Linked DNA regions of Homo sapiens: regions 2, 3 and 4 are each reported to be linked to region 1. Evidence: microRNA targets listed by miRTarBase, many of them from high-throughput screens and not tested one by one. Region 1 holds a microRNA gene; each other region holds the end of a gene's coding sequence.

What was found. The annotated mature microRNA hsa-miR-19b-3p reads UGUGCAAAUCCAUGCAAAACUGA and lies in region 1 at 1,188-1,210, opposite strand. An mRNA with a match to its seed (bases 2 to 7 or 8) in the 3' UTR can be bound and repressed. Matches are read on the target gene's strand: a 7mer-m8 pairs with bases 2 to 8, a 7mer-A1 pairs with bases 2 to 7 and ends in A, and an 8mer does both.
Region 2: the mRNA of COQ10B is a reported target of hsa-miR-19b-3p. Seed matches in the 3' UTR shown: 8mer at 532-539.
Region 3: the mRNA of DAD1 is a reported target of hsa-miR-19b-3p. The part of its 3' UTR that is shown has no 7-base or 8-base seed match.
Region 4: the mRNA of TTC9C is a reported target of hsa-miR-19b-3p. The part of its 3' UTR that is shown has no 7-base or 8-base seed match.

What each region holds. Positions count from the first base shown.
Region 1 is chr13:91,349,305-91,352,454 of GRCh38, reverse strand. It overlaps MIR19B1 (microRNA 19b-1), which reads right to left and starts at 1,263; the gene lies at 1,177-1,263. MIR17HG (miR-17-92a-1 cluster host gene) reads right to left here. Exons shown (of 3, transcript NR_197388.1): 2 at 2,685-2,757; 3 at 1-2,299. MIR17 (microRNA 17) reads right to left here and starts at 1,850; the gene lies at 1,767-1,850. It overlaps MIR18A (microRNA 18a), which reads right to left and starts at 1,704; the gene lies at 1,634-1,704. It also overlaps MIR19A, MIR20A and MIR92A1. RefSeq lists an enhancer at 2,635-3,150.
Region 2 is chr2:197,473,530-197,476,679 of GRCh38, forward strand. It overlaps COQ10B (coenzyme Q10B), which reads left to right. Exons shown (of 5, transcript NM_025147.5): 5 at 228-1,781. The coding sequence ends at 395. Among named protein-coding and RNA genes, the nearest start is that of SNORA105B, 12 kb to the right of the region's middle.
Region 3 is chr14:22,572,292-22,575,441 of GRCh38, reverse strand. DAD1 (defender against cell death 1) reads left to right here. Exons shown (of 3, transcript NM_001344.4): 2 at 209-383. The coding sequence ends at 339. Among named protein-coding and RNA genes, the nearest start is that of DAD1, 15 kb to the left of the region's middle.
Region 4 is chr11:62,737,952-62,741,101 of GRCh38, reverse strand. TTC9C (tetratricopeptide repeat domain 9C) reads right to left here. Exons shown (of 3, transcript NM_173810.4): 3 at 2,466-2,814. The coding sequence ends at 2,720. Among named protein-coding and RNA genes, the nearest start is that of TTC9C, 11 kb to the right of the region's middle.

The DNA.
Region 1 (3,150 bases):
TCCAAAATACAATGACATTTCTCAAAACTTATCTTTCAAACATCAAGTTTGCCTGTACTTCAGCTTGGGCCCAATTTTACCACTTGGTCCTTTTAAATCTATTATTCAGGTATCCCACATTATTCTACACAAATACACATAGGCTAGAGACAAAAACACATGAAGAAAAGAGAGAAGGCAGAAATGCTGGGTAAAACACTAACTGCCACTTCTTAGTTTCCACTTCAGTGACTTTAAGTCAAATAAGCCTGGAATCAACTATCACTGTTGCCAAAGTCTGGCTTACGTAGGGAGTAGGGAACATAAATGTTAACTACAGACTTAGAAATAAATGAATATCTGAATCTCACCCCACCGCTGCACTCTTGGCATTTGGGAAGAGTGTACACATACATTTAACTGTTACTCTATTTAGCATTTGTTCTTTTTCTAACTCCCATTTTTTTAAGTTGCAGATGCTAAAAGCAGTCTGAGGACCTTGGTCATTTATAGCTTATAAATCACTGACAATCAGAAAGAAAAACTAGTATACAAGCATTTAACAGTTACACTTCAGTTACTCATGTATTGGTAAACTGGTACTTGCTTAATAGAAACAAATTGTACCCCAACCCTAAATTCCATGCTTAAAAAAACTCATCTTTACACATTGCTTTAAACAGAGCGGCATTCTCTCTAAATTTAAATACTTGAGTAATATATGAGCAACATAAATTAACTTTTAGATTAAGTAAAATATCCTGGAATAACACTAACTCCAAAGAAAGCAAAAAGATATACTCTAACTTTACAGATGATCATCAGGTATACAGTATGTTTAGTCATATCGCAATACTTAACAGCCAAATAAATCTAACAACAAAAAATATAGCCAGAATTTATACTGCCAAATCTGACACGCAACCCCAAAAGTGAAATGTTTTTGAATGAAAACAAGACAAGATGTATTTACACAAAAAGTTACACATTTTCTTTAATATTTCATGTATCTTGTACATTTAACAGTGGAAGTCGAAATCTTCAGTAATATTTAATTTTCAAAATCTTCTGGTCACAATCCCCACCAAACTCAACAGGCCGGGACAAGTGCAATACCATACAGAAACACAGCATTGCAACCGATCCCAACCTGTGTAGAAAGGGGTTTGAGTTTCCCTTACTTTTCTACAGACTTTTCACTACCACAGTCAGTTTTGCATGGATTTGCACAGCAGAATATCACACAGCTGGATGCAAACCTGCAAAACTAACCATAGAACAGTGTTCAGTAACAGGACAGTTTGATTGGGCGACAGGCCGAAGCTGGAGTTCTACAGCTAGCAGTACTTTAAGTGCTCATAATGCAGTAGATAACTAAACACTACCTGCACTATAAGCACTTTAGTGCTACAGAAGCTGTCACATCAGATAGACCAGGCAGATTCTACATCGACACAATAAAAGTACACAAAATTAGTAAAAATCATTCATTTGAAGGAAATAGCAGGCCACCATCAGTTTTGCATAGATTTGCACAACTACATTCTTCTTGTAGTGCAACTATGCAAAACTAACAGAGGACTGCAAACAAAAACTATTAAAACACCTATATACTTGCTTGGCTTGAATTATTGGATGAATACATAACTTCTTATGCCAGAAGGAGCACTTAGGGCAGTAGATGCTAATCTACTTCACTATCTGCACTAGATGCACCTTAGAACAAAAAGCACTCAACATCAGCAGGCCCTGCACTTTAAAGCCCAACTTGGCTTCCCGAGGCAGCTGTCACCATAATGCTACAAGTGCCTTCACTGCAGTAGATGCACATATCACTACCTGCACTGTAAGCACTTTGACATTATTCTGACTGGTCACAATCTTCAGTTTTACAAGGTGATGTTCTCTTTTTTCCTGCTAAATTTGAAATAGATAATTAGAATTAACACCTCAAACTCTAACAACTATAAACCATACAAATTCAGCATAATCCCTAATGGGGAAGAAAAAATTAGTTTAATTATCTCAAAGATATGAGGTCCATTTAGACACGTATTTATGCCTTAAGAATTCTTTACAGAAGGCAATCATAACCAACCATCCAACTAGCACTGGAAGTGGTGGCTCTTCCAATGGCTGGCCTCTCCCAAATGGATTGACACATAGAGAAAAAAAACAAAACAAAATGAGACTGCAAATAAATGAGAACTAATTTTGGAACATTTAAAGGCAATTTAGTCCATGTGTACCTTTTAGAGGAAATCTTCACATCCACGTGGCAAAACATTTTCCTCCTCTTCTGGCTTCCACTTAGCAAATACTTGTTGAAATGATTAACAAAATTACTGTTCAGACTACACTTCAAGTGTTATCAGTCAATTGTAGCAGAACGTAAATATCCTGTTTAAATCTATCATCTCAGGTTATATCTACTTTATCACCCAACTTAAAAGAGGGTCTAAAATTATATTTCGTAAACTGCATAAGCCAGTTTCCAAAAATGTACAGGAATATTTACACTGTAATTTTACTACCTTAAAATTAGCAAATCCGTACTTAATGAGTTAGTTTTTCAGAAAAGGTACATTGTCTAAAGAAAGAAACACCTACTTTTACTCTCTAAGAAACCAATCCTATTTATTCAACTTTAATAGCAAGAAAAATTTGTTTTTAAGAAAAGTTCAAGAAAATCAGAATACACTTACCCATTCCAGAAAACTTCCTTTTCAGCAAGTATTCTCAGAAAAGCTACTGGTGCAGTTAGGTCCACGTGTATGACTGGAATAGGGAAAAATAAGGAAAAAAAAGATAAAACATTATTTGCTCAAAATTACTACCACCGTCCAAATCTATATTTGCTATTTTCCAACCTCCTAACAGCAATTAATTCCATCCATTTGTGAGAGTAAGAGTCGAGCAATACTAGCAGGATTTAAAAGCCCAATAATTTACAGTTGAAAAATACGTAAGAGAATAAAGTTGAAAAATCCTTAGCTATCAGATACATGTCTAAATAAGCTCCTAAAATACTTGATTATGATCAGCAGCAATCACCGACTCCACTGTACAGCTCCAGTAAAAGGAAAAAAAAAAAGCAGCCCACAGACTATTCTTCACCACCCCTCCCCCAATCAAGACCTCGTGGCTGCAAGCCGGGATAAAGAGTTGTTT
Region 2 (3,150 bases), not on the chromosome of region 1:
ACACAAATTAGCCACATGTGGTGGCATATGCCTGTAGTACCAGCTACTTGGGAGACAGAGGTGGGAGGATTGCTTGAGTCCAGGAGGTTGAGGCTGCAGTGAGCCGCAATTGTGCCACTGCACTCCAACCTGGGCAACAAAGCGAGAGTCCCTCTCCAGGAAAACCAAAAAAAAAAAAAAAGCAAAAAATAATTTTTTCTAAAATAATTTTCAATATTTTCCTACAGATTTCTTTTGAATTTCGATCACTTCTACATTCCCAGCTTGCCACACTCTTTTTTGATGAAGTTGTGAAGCAGATGGTAGCTGCCTTTGAAAGAAGAGCATGTAAGCTGTATGGTCCAGAAACAAATATACCTCGGGAGTTAATGCTTCATGAAGTCCATCACACATAAAGGCAAAAAAGAACTGGTGCCACCTGCTTCTGACTTTAGTTTGTTCACTTTTAGGAAGTATTTTCATGACATGTTTTCAGAAGCCAGAAAGCATTTGTTAAACGCAGCTTTGGTTATAAACCTGCACCATTGAAAATTTGCACATAGAATATAGACTCACTTGTACATAGAATTATTTCTTCAAGTATAATTCAAAATAATATGGACATTATCATGTTCTGCATTACAATAATGGGATGTCATCACCATTGCTAGAATACTGGCATGATTCTTCTGAGCAGAAGTTGAAACTGTAAATTTAAACCTTTTAATTATCACCTTACCTGAAAGAGGTTAGTTAAGATATTCACACAGTATGTATTATATTAACCATATCACACTTAAGTTATTAAATTCAGACTATTTGTAACTTATTGTTATAGGGCCTGCCGTATGGCTTAGGATATTTGAGTAATCATATATTTAAAGTAAAAACTTTGGGCTGGGCACAGTGGCTCACACCTGTAATCCCAGCACTTGGGGAAGCTGAGGTGGGCAGATCAGTTGAGGTCAGGAGTTCTAGACCAGCCTGGTCAACATGGCGAAACCCCATCTCTACTAAAAATACAAAAATTAGCTGGGCGTGGTGGCACACACCTGTAATCCCAGTTACTTGGGAGGCTGAGGCACAAGAATCGCTTGAACCCGGGAGGCGGAGGTTGCAGTTAGCCAAGATCGCCCTGCTGCACTCCAGCCTGGGCAACAGAGGGAGACTCTGTCTCCAAAAACAAAAACAAAAACTGTTAGTGAAGGTTCCCTGGGACTTTTGATATTTTAAAAATTGTTCTTATGACTAGTAGATAAATTCATTGCCATAATGAGGCTAGCTCCCAGATAAACAGTGTATTTTCTTCTTTTTTTTTTTTTTTTTGGTGAGTGGTCCAGAGCTTTAAGCTACTTTTCCAGTAGTTTGCCACTTTCTCCGAGGTAGTTTGGCTGCTCTTTCAGTAATGCTAATTGTGTGTCAAATTTTGTCTACAACAGTAGGCAACAGATGAAGATAAGTTGGTTGAATGTCTCCAGCACTATGCATCCCTATTTTCTATTTATTGTGTACACTCACTTTCAGTAATGTGTTTCAAACTGGTATTTTTTAAAAAACAAATCAATGTAAGGACTGAAGTTGAAGTAGCAATGTAATAAAGTTAATTTGTTTATTTTTTGTACAGTTAGTTTGGTTATTGAAATCTTCCTATATTGTTTAAATGTGTATTTGCATAGACATAGTAAAGTGTTACAGCATTTCATGTCTTAAAAATATCTATGAAGATATCTAAAATATCTATTTCTATGAAGAAACAGACTTTAACAAATATAAGCAAAATTCAGTTTTCTTTTAACCAGTCATTGATCTCCTGTCCTCCTTTCACTACATACCAACAACCCTCTGGCATTAAACTTCCAGTGATAGTGCTATTAACTTTGTTTCCTCAGGTCAACAAGGGACCTCAGTAATTAGTTCTCTACATAAGTATATATATGGGTATTAATTTGTTTAATAAATCTGTTTTGAGCACCTGCTTTCAATCAGACACTGGGTATAGAGTGATGAAGGATTCATATCAGCCTCTACTCATGAGGAGCCAGGTTGTGCTCTCACACAAGGTAAGCAGTATCTTTCCACTTACAGATGAGGTATTTGCCAAGAGCATAAGTAGTTTGTATATAGTTATATACCTTTTTTTTTTTTCTTTTCTTGAGACGGAGTTTCGCTTTTGTTGCCCAGGCTGGAGTGCAATGACGCGATCTCAGCTCACCGCATCCTCTGCCTCCCACGTTCAAGCAATTCTCCTGCCTCAGCCTCCTGAGTAGCTGGGATTACAGGCATGCACCACCACACCTGGCTAATTTTGTATTTTTAGTAGAAACGGGGTTTCTCCGTGTTGATGAGGCTGGCCTCAAACTCCCAACCTCAGGTGATCTGCCTGCCTCAGCCTTCCTAAGTGCTGGCATTACAGGCGTGAGCCACTGTCCCTGGCCAGTGTACCAATGTAGCTTTTTAAATAACAAAGTTTTTTTTTTTTTTTTGGCTGGGCACGCTGGCTCATGCCTGCAATCCCAGCACTTTGGGAGGCTGAGGCAGGCAGATCACGGGGTCAAGAGATTGAGACCATCCTGGCCAACATGGTGAAACCCTGTCTCTACTAAAAATACAAAAATTAGCTGGGTGTGGTGGCGTGCGCCTGTAGTCCCAGCTACTCGGGAGGCTGAGGCAGGAGAATCACTTGAACCCAGGAGGCGGAGGTTGCAGTGAGCAGACATCACATCACTGTATTCCAGCCTGGCGACAGAGGAAGATTCCACCTCAAAAAAAAAACAAAAAACAAAAAACTTTTTTTTGTTGTTTCGTTTTGTTTTTTGTTTTTTTGAGACAGAGTCTCAACTCTGTTGTCCAGGCTGGAGTGCAGTGGCACAATCTCGGCTCACTGCAACCTCCGCCTCCCAGGTTCAAGTGATTCTCCTGCTTCAGCCTCTCAAGTAGCTGGAGAGTATCAGCGCGCACCACCACATCGGCTAATTTTTGTATTTTTTAGTGGAGACGGTTTCACCATGTTTCCCAGGCTGGTCTTGAACTCCTGACCTTAAATGATCTGCCGGCCTTGGCCTCCCAGGGTGTTGGGATTATAGGCGTGAGCTACTGCACCCGGCCACAAAGTTTTTTTAAAATGGCAAAGTCATTTAAAGCTTTTTAAAAATAAGACTCAGACATTTTATT
Region 3 (3,150 bases), not on the chromosome of region 1:
TAATTTATCCATTTTACTGTTGATAGACATTAGATTGTTTCCAGTTTGGGGCTATCTGGGTATCATTTCTGTGTATGCCCTTTGATGTATATATGCATTCATTTCTGTTAGAGTAGAATTGTTGGGTCCTCGGGTATGTCTGTGTTCATTAGCATATTTATTTTATACTTCTATATAATCATTTTTTTGTGTTTTGCTTCTTGTGCAGTTTGCCTGAGAATACAGATCAACCCACAGAACAAAGCGGATTTCCAAGGCATCTCCCCAGAGCGAGCCTTTGCTGATTTTCTCTTTGCCAGCACCATCCTGCACCTTGTTGTCATGAACTTTGTTGGCTGAATCATTCTCATTTACTTAATTGAGGAGTAGGAGACTAAAAGAATGTAAGTGATGATCATAGTCCTTGTCCTATAATGTTGATTTTAGGAAGAGAAATTGGATGGGACTGGTTTTGATCATGGTTGGCCAGGCTCCCATACTGCTATTGACATTTGCAGAATTTTCCATTGGTCTGCAAAGTATGCATTAATATCATCATAATTCATCAGTGCTACTGCTCTTGGTCATTGCCTTGTCTTTCTGTTCTTCAAATCATTAAGGTAATAGAAAATTAATGTTTGTAGCTAGTACAATAATTTCTGTACCAATAACTCCACGAAAATAACTCGGAGATTTTGGAAGAGACATAAATGGTAGGTTTTGCCTTTAGATTTGTTAGTTAATTTTTTTCTGATTTTGATCTCAGATGACTTTTAATGCTGGACCATTGTTTTCATAGCACTTAAATTTGATAGCATCCAGTGTATGTTGGATGAATGACTGTGGGCATTTGCTAATATGTGCCTTAAAGTAGAAATAAATGGGGAAATTGGGTTAACTTGGGAGAAGACTTTAAAATATAAGATGGGATGCTGCTTGGTTCATTTGCCATTTTCACTTTTTTAGCAGTAGAGTTCTTTCTCCCTTCTCCCAAACAAACTCTTACAAAAAGAATCTTGGTATATAAAGCAGAAGTAGAATTGGAGTTTTTTTTGATGGACAGAAATTGAAAAGCCCTCTCTGCTTGGCCTTCATCACATATGGTACGCCCTCCCCTAAATCGCTCCCTCCCAAGCAGAGTTCTAAAGCTTTAATAAATATATGGCTGTTTTCCATACCGTATGTCAACACTGTTACTTTATATATGAGACAACAGAGGCCTAGAACAATCCATTGGCCTTCCCTGGCCACATAGTTAAGTGTTTGCAGTGAAGTGCCCTAGTCTAGCGGTGTTCTTGGCCCCGTACTCCTTCCGGTATCCCATGTAGCTTACTGATGAATGCATGCAATCTTTGCCTTTGCATTGCAAAATGTAATGTTCTGGGTGGTAGAGAAAAGAGAACCTTAGGAGATCTCATCCTATTTGGGGGAAGGATATCCTAGGACCAACCTCTTCCTGTCACCACTTGGAAAGCTGTCATTTTTATACTAACCAGCAGAAATCTAGTATAAGAGTTAGAGCATCTATGTGCAAAGTGGATGCAATAATGTGGAAGTGACTATACTTCCTTTTCTGACATGAATTAGTCATTTACTTATAATATGTTACCTAAATCCTTTCCTTTGATACTGCCTCAAAAACAGTTCTGTTAGTTCAGGTAAGGTATCATTTTGGTAGTGGTAAGTTGACAGTGAGGTTTATTTCAGTGAAAAACTTTTTTTTTTTCTTTTCTGTTTTTTTTTTTTTTTTTTTGAGATGGAGTCTCGCTCTGTTACCCAGGCTGGAGTGCAGTGGTGCGATCTCGGCTCACTGCAGACTCCGCCTCCCGAGTTCATGCCATTCTCCTGCCTCAGCCTCCCGAGTAGCTGGGACTACAGGCGCCCGCCACCACGCCCGGCTAATTTTTTGTATTTTTAGTAGAGACGGAGTTTCACCGTGTTAGGATGATCTCGATCTCCTGACCTGGTGATCCGCCCGCCTTGGCCTCCCAACAGTGAAAAACTTTTAAGAACCACTTTGTTCTGTTATTTTAATACAATTTAACTCATTAGACACCTGATTAAGACTTGAGTTATCCTCTTCCTCCCTTCCTCCCTCCCCTTCTATGTGCCAGCCAATGTCTTGTTGTTGGGAATATAAACAATATTGTTGGCTGGGCGTGGTGGTTCATGCCTATAATCCCAGCACTTTCGGAAGGCGAGGTGGGCGATTGCTTGAGCTCAAGAATTTGAGACCAGCATGGGCAACATAGCAAGACCCTATCTCAATTAAAAAAAAAAACCCAAAAGTGTGGCTTCTGCCTTCAAGACATGTACAGTCTAGTAGGGGAGAATACGTAAACATAACAGTTAAAATACAGCCCATTTAGGGCCTCGCTATAGGTTTGAACAAAGTGCTGCAAAAATCCAGAGAAGAGAGCAGCTGTACCATCTGGGAGCAGGGACAGCAGATGAGTTATCTGAGCAATGGATAACAGCTATTGCTAGTTAAAATGAACTGTTACCAGTGGATAACCTTGAATGCAGGTAGAAAACTGACCCACCAACATTGACCTTCTCACGCTTGCAAATATGAGTAACCCTTGGGCTTCCTGATAGAGCCTTCTGGAAAGGTCATGTCTTCTGATTGCTTACTCTAGATTTCTGAAGTTCTTTTTTTCTAGATGAGTCATGGTGTGTACTTAGGAAGGGGACACAGCAAACATTTCAAGGATGTTTTCTAGGCTCAGGGAGATACCAAATCATGGAAAATTATTTCTTAGGGCTGTCATGATTGGAGGAAGACTCTACTGCAGAGAGCTTAGTATTTCAAAATTATGACAAAAGCAAAGACAAAAAAGCAGTCTCAGCAGAAACTGTGTACTGCAGACCATATTAACAACCTAGGACCACCTGCTCAGCTGGGAATTATGGGCCCAAAGCATAGCAAAATCCTCAATCCCAGATTGCAGTGTTAAATCTTTCTATGGAGAGTATGTTCATAGAAAAATCTTTCTCTCTGGGGGATTGCCCAGATTGTTTTTCATAGAGATCCTTCATTTGAATTATACTATACTGTCCTGCTCTCAGTTTTTAAAAATATACATTTATTTGCTCCTTTTATGTGCTTCTAACTCAGCTATATGTGCACTGTGCCACAGCACTTTAAAAATAGTTCCAAGTAAATTCTCA
Region 4 (3,150 bases), not on the chromosome of region 1:
GGTCTCAAACTCCTGACCTCAGGTGATCCAGCCTCCCAAAGTGCTGGGATTACAAGCATGAGCCACAGCGCCCAGCCTATTTCTCTTCTCTGTGAGGACCTCAGCCCTTGCAAAATATGAGATGACAGGTAAAGGACAGGTTTGTTTTTATTCTGCTCTATTATGTATGTTTCTTTTTTTTTTTTTTGAGACAGTCTCACTGCCGCAGGCTGGAGTGCAGTGGCGCAATCTCAGATCACCGCAACCTCCGGCTTCTAGGTTCAAGTGATCCTCCCGCCTCAGCCTCCCCAGCAGTTTAGTAGAGATGGGGTTTCGCCATGTTGGCCAGGCTGGTCTTGAACTCCGGACCTCAAGTGATCCACCCGCCTCAGACTCCCAATGTGTTGGGATTACAGGCATGAGCCACCGTACCCGGCTAGTATGTATGTTTTTAGAAGATGTGATAATCTTTTCTTTTTTTTGAGATGGAGTCTCTCTCTGTCACCCAGGCTGGAGTGCAGTGGCGTGATCTCGGCTCACTGCAAGCTCCACCTCCTGAGTTCACGCCATTCTCCTGCCTCAGCCTCCCGAGTAGCTGGGACTACAGGCACACGCTACCAAGCCCAGCTAATTTTTTTTTTTTGTATTTTTAGTAGAGACGGAGTTTCACCGTGTTAGCCAGGATGGTCTTTTTTTTTTTTTTTTTTTTTTTTTTTTTTTTTAAGAGAAATGAGGATACTATAGATAAGCACCTATTAAAATTTAAAATGTTCACTTAGGTGTTTTCTTTAGCATGAGGTCTGAAGGGTTTATTAAATAAATACTTAAATGCTTTACTCCAAAGGTTTTAAAATAGTTTAATGAAAAAATAAATATAGTGTATGAATGATCTAAGTATGAGAAATAGCAAGGACAAAATAGCAAATATTTTTGTAGGGGAGAAGGAATCTGAATGTGTATGGAATATTAAGGAGAATAAGAAATTAATTTAACAGGGGCTGTGGCGGGGGGTGGGAGAACATGAGGAAAAATAGCTAATACATGCTGGACTTAATACCGAGGTGATGTGTTGATAGGTGCAGCAAACCACCGAGGCACACGTTTCCCTATGTAACAAACCTGCATATCCTGCACATGGATCCTGGAACTTAAAATTAAAAGAAAAAGAAAAAATTAAACAAAATGGTTACTTTTGGCCAGGCATAGTGGCTCACACCTGTAATCCCAGCACTTTGGGAGCCCGAGTGGGTGGATCACTTGAGGCCAGGAGTTCAAGAGCACCCTGGCCAACATGGCAAAACCATGTCTCTACTAAAAAGGAAATACAAAAAAATTAGCCGGGCGTGGTGGCACATGCCTGTAATCCCAGCTGCTTGGGTGGCTCAGACACGAGAATCACTTGAACCTGGGAGGCAGAGGTTGCAGTGAGCCAAGATGGCACCACTGCACTCCAGACTGGGCAACAGAGTGAGACTCTGTCTCAAAAAACAAAAAGTTACTTTAGTATATTTGGGCTTATTTATTTATTGAGACACGTCACTCTGTCACCCAGGCTGGAGTGCTGTGTCAGGATCTTGGCTCACTGCAACCGCTGCCCTCCAGATTCAAGCAATCCTCCCACCTTAGCCTCCAGAATAGCTGGGACTACAGGTGAACACCTGGCCCAGCTAATCTTTGCATTTTTTTTTTTTTTTGAGACGGAGTCTCGCTCTGTTGCCCAGGCTGGAGTGCAGTGGCGTGATCTCTGCTCACTGCAAGCTCCACCTCCCGGGTTCATGCCATTCTCCTGCCTCAGCCTCCCGAGTAGCTGGGACTACAGGCGCCCACCACCACGCCCGGCTAATTTTTTGTATTTTTAGTAGAGACGGGGTTTCACTGTGTTAGCCAGGATGGTCTCAATCTCCTGACCTCATGATCTACCTGCCTCGGCCTCCCAAAGTGCTGGGATTACAGGCCTGACCCACCGTGCCCGGCCATCTTTGCATCTTTTATAGAGACAGGGTTTCACTGTGTTCCCCAGGCTGGTCTTGAACTCCTGGACTCAAGCTATCTATCTGTCTACCTCTGCCTTCCAAAGTGCTGGGATTACAGGCGTGAGCCACCATGCCCAGCCTGGCTCATTTATAATTGTCTAGTTTCCAGTACCTGAGACCACAGGCGTGTGTCATCTTGCCAGGCTAATTTTTGTATTTTTAGTAGAGACAGGGTTTTACCCTGTTGGTCAGGCTGGTCTTGAACTCCTGACCTCAGGTGATCCGCTGGCCTCAGCCTCCCAATGTGCTGGGATTACAGGCATGAGCTAGAGCGCCCGGCCATATTTCCCACTTTGGTTTGGGCTTCTGAAAAAATAAAGGAAGACAATTCTTTCTGCCTATCCTTACTATGTCGTCCTCTGCAAGCTGTCGCCTCTGTATATAAGTACATCTAACAACACTGTCATGAAAAATCTATACCAGAGATATGATTAATTCCACCCACAACTGATGTATGTTTTCTGATTATATTTCTCAAGCCAAATATCTGCAACAATAACATGTATTGAAAGGTATAGAAATAAACAGATGGATAGACAGAAAAAGACTCAGACTGTCTAAGTAGTGAAGTTTGTGCAGAACTAGAAACAAAAATCCACCTGGGTCAGAGGTATAGGGTTAATTTCTCTTGCTGAGGCTCAGATTTCTCCTTCATGCATGTTTAATGGTCCACCTAAGTTCAACTGGAGGAGCATCTTTCTTCTTTGTTAACCAAACATGCCCAGGTAGAGCTGCTTCTCTTTTCTATGGTAGCTGCTGAGTTCTGACTGTGTCAGCTGGAGGTACCGCCGGACGTTGGCATCTTGGAAGATGATGGAGAAGCAATTAGAAACAGTTAGAGTCAGTTAAGACCATAATCATACCTTGTGGCAGGAGAGAATGTTAACATGCTCCCATTTTAAAATCTCTCCAAGATCTGAATATATCGCAACCATTCTATGCAATAGTAAATCTCATTAATTAATAACATTTGGAATTGAAAAAAAACAATCTCTGTCCCGGCTGCTAATTTTTATTTATTTATTTATTTATTTATTTTATTTATTTACTTACTTTTGAGACAGGGTCTCGCTCTGTCACCCAGGCTAGAGTGCAATAGCATGGGATCTCCACTTACTGCAACCTCCGCCTCCCGGGT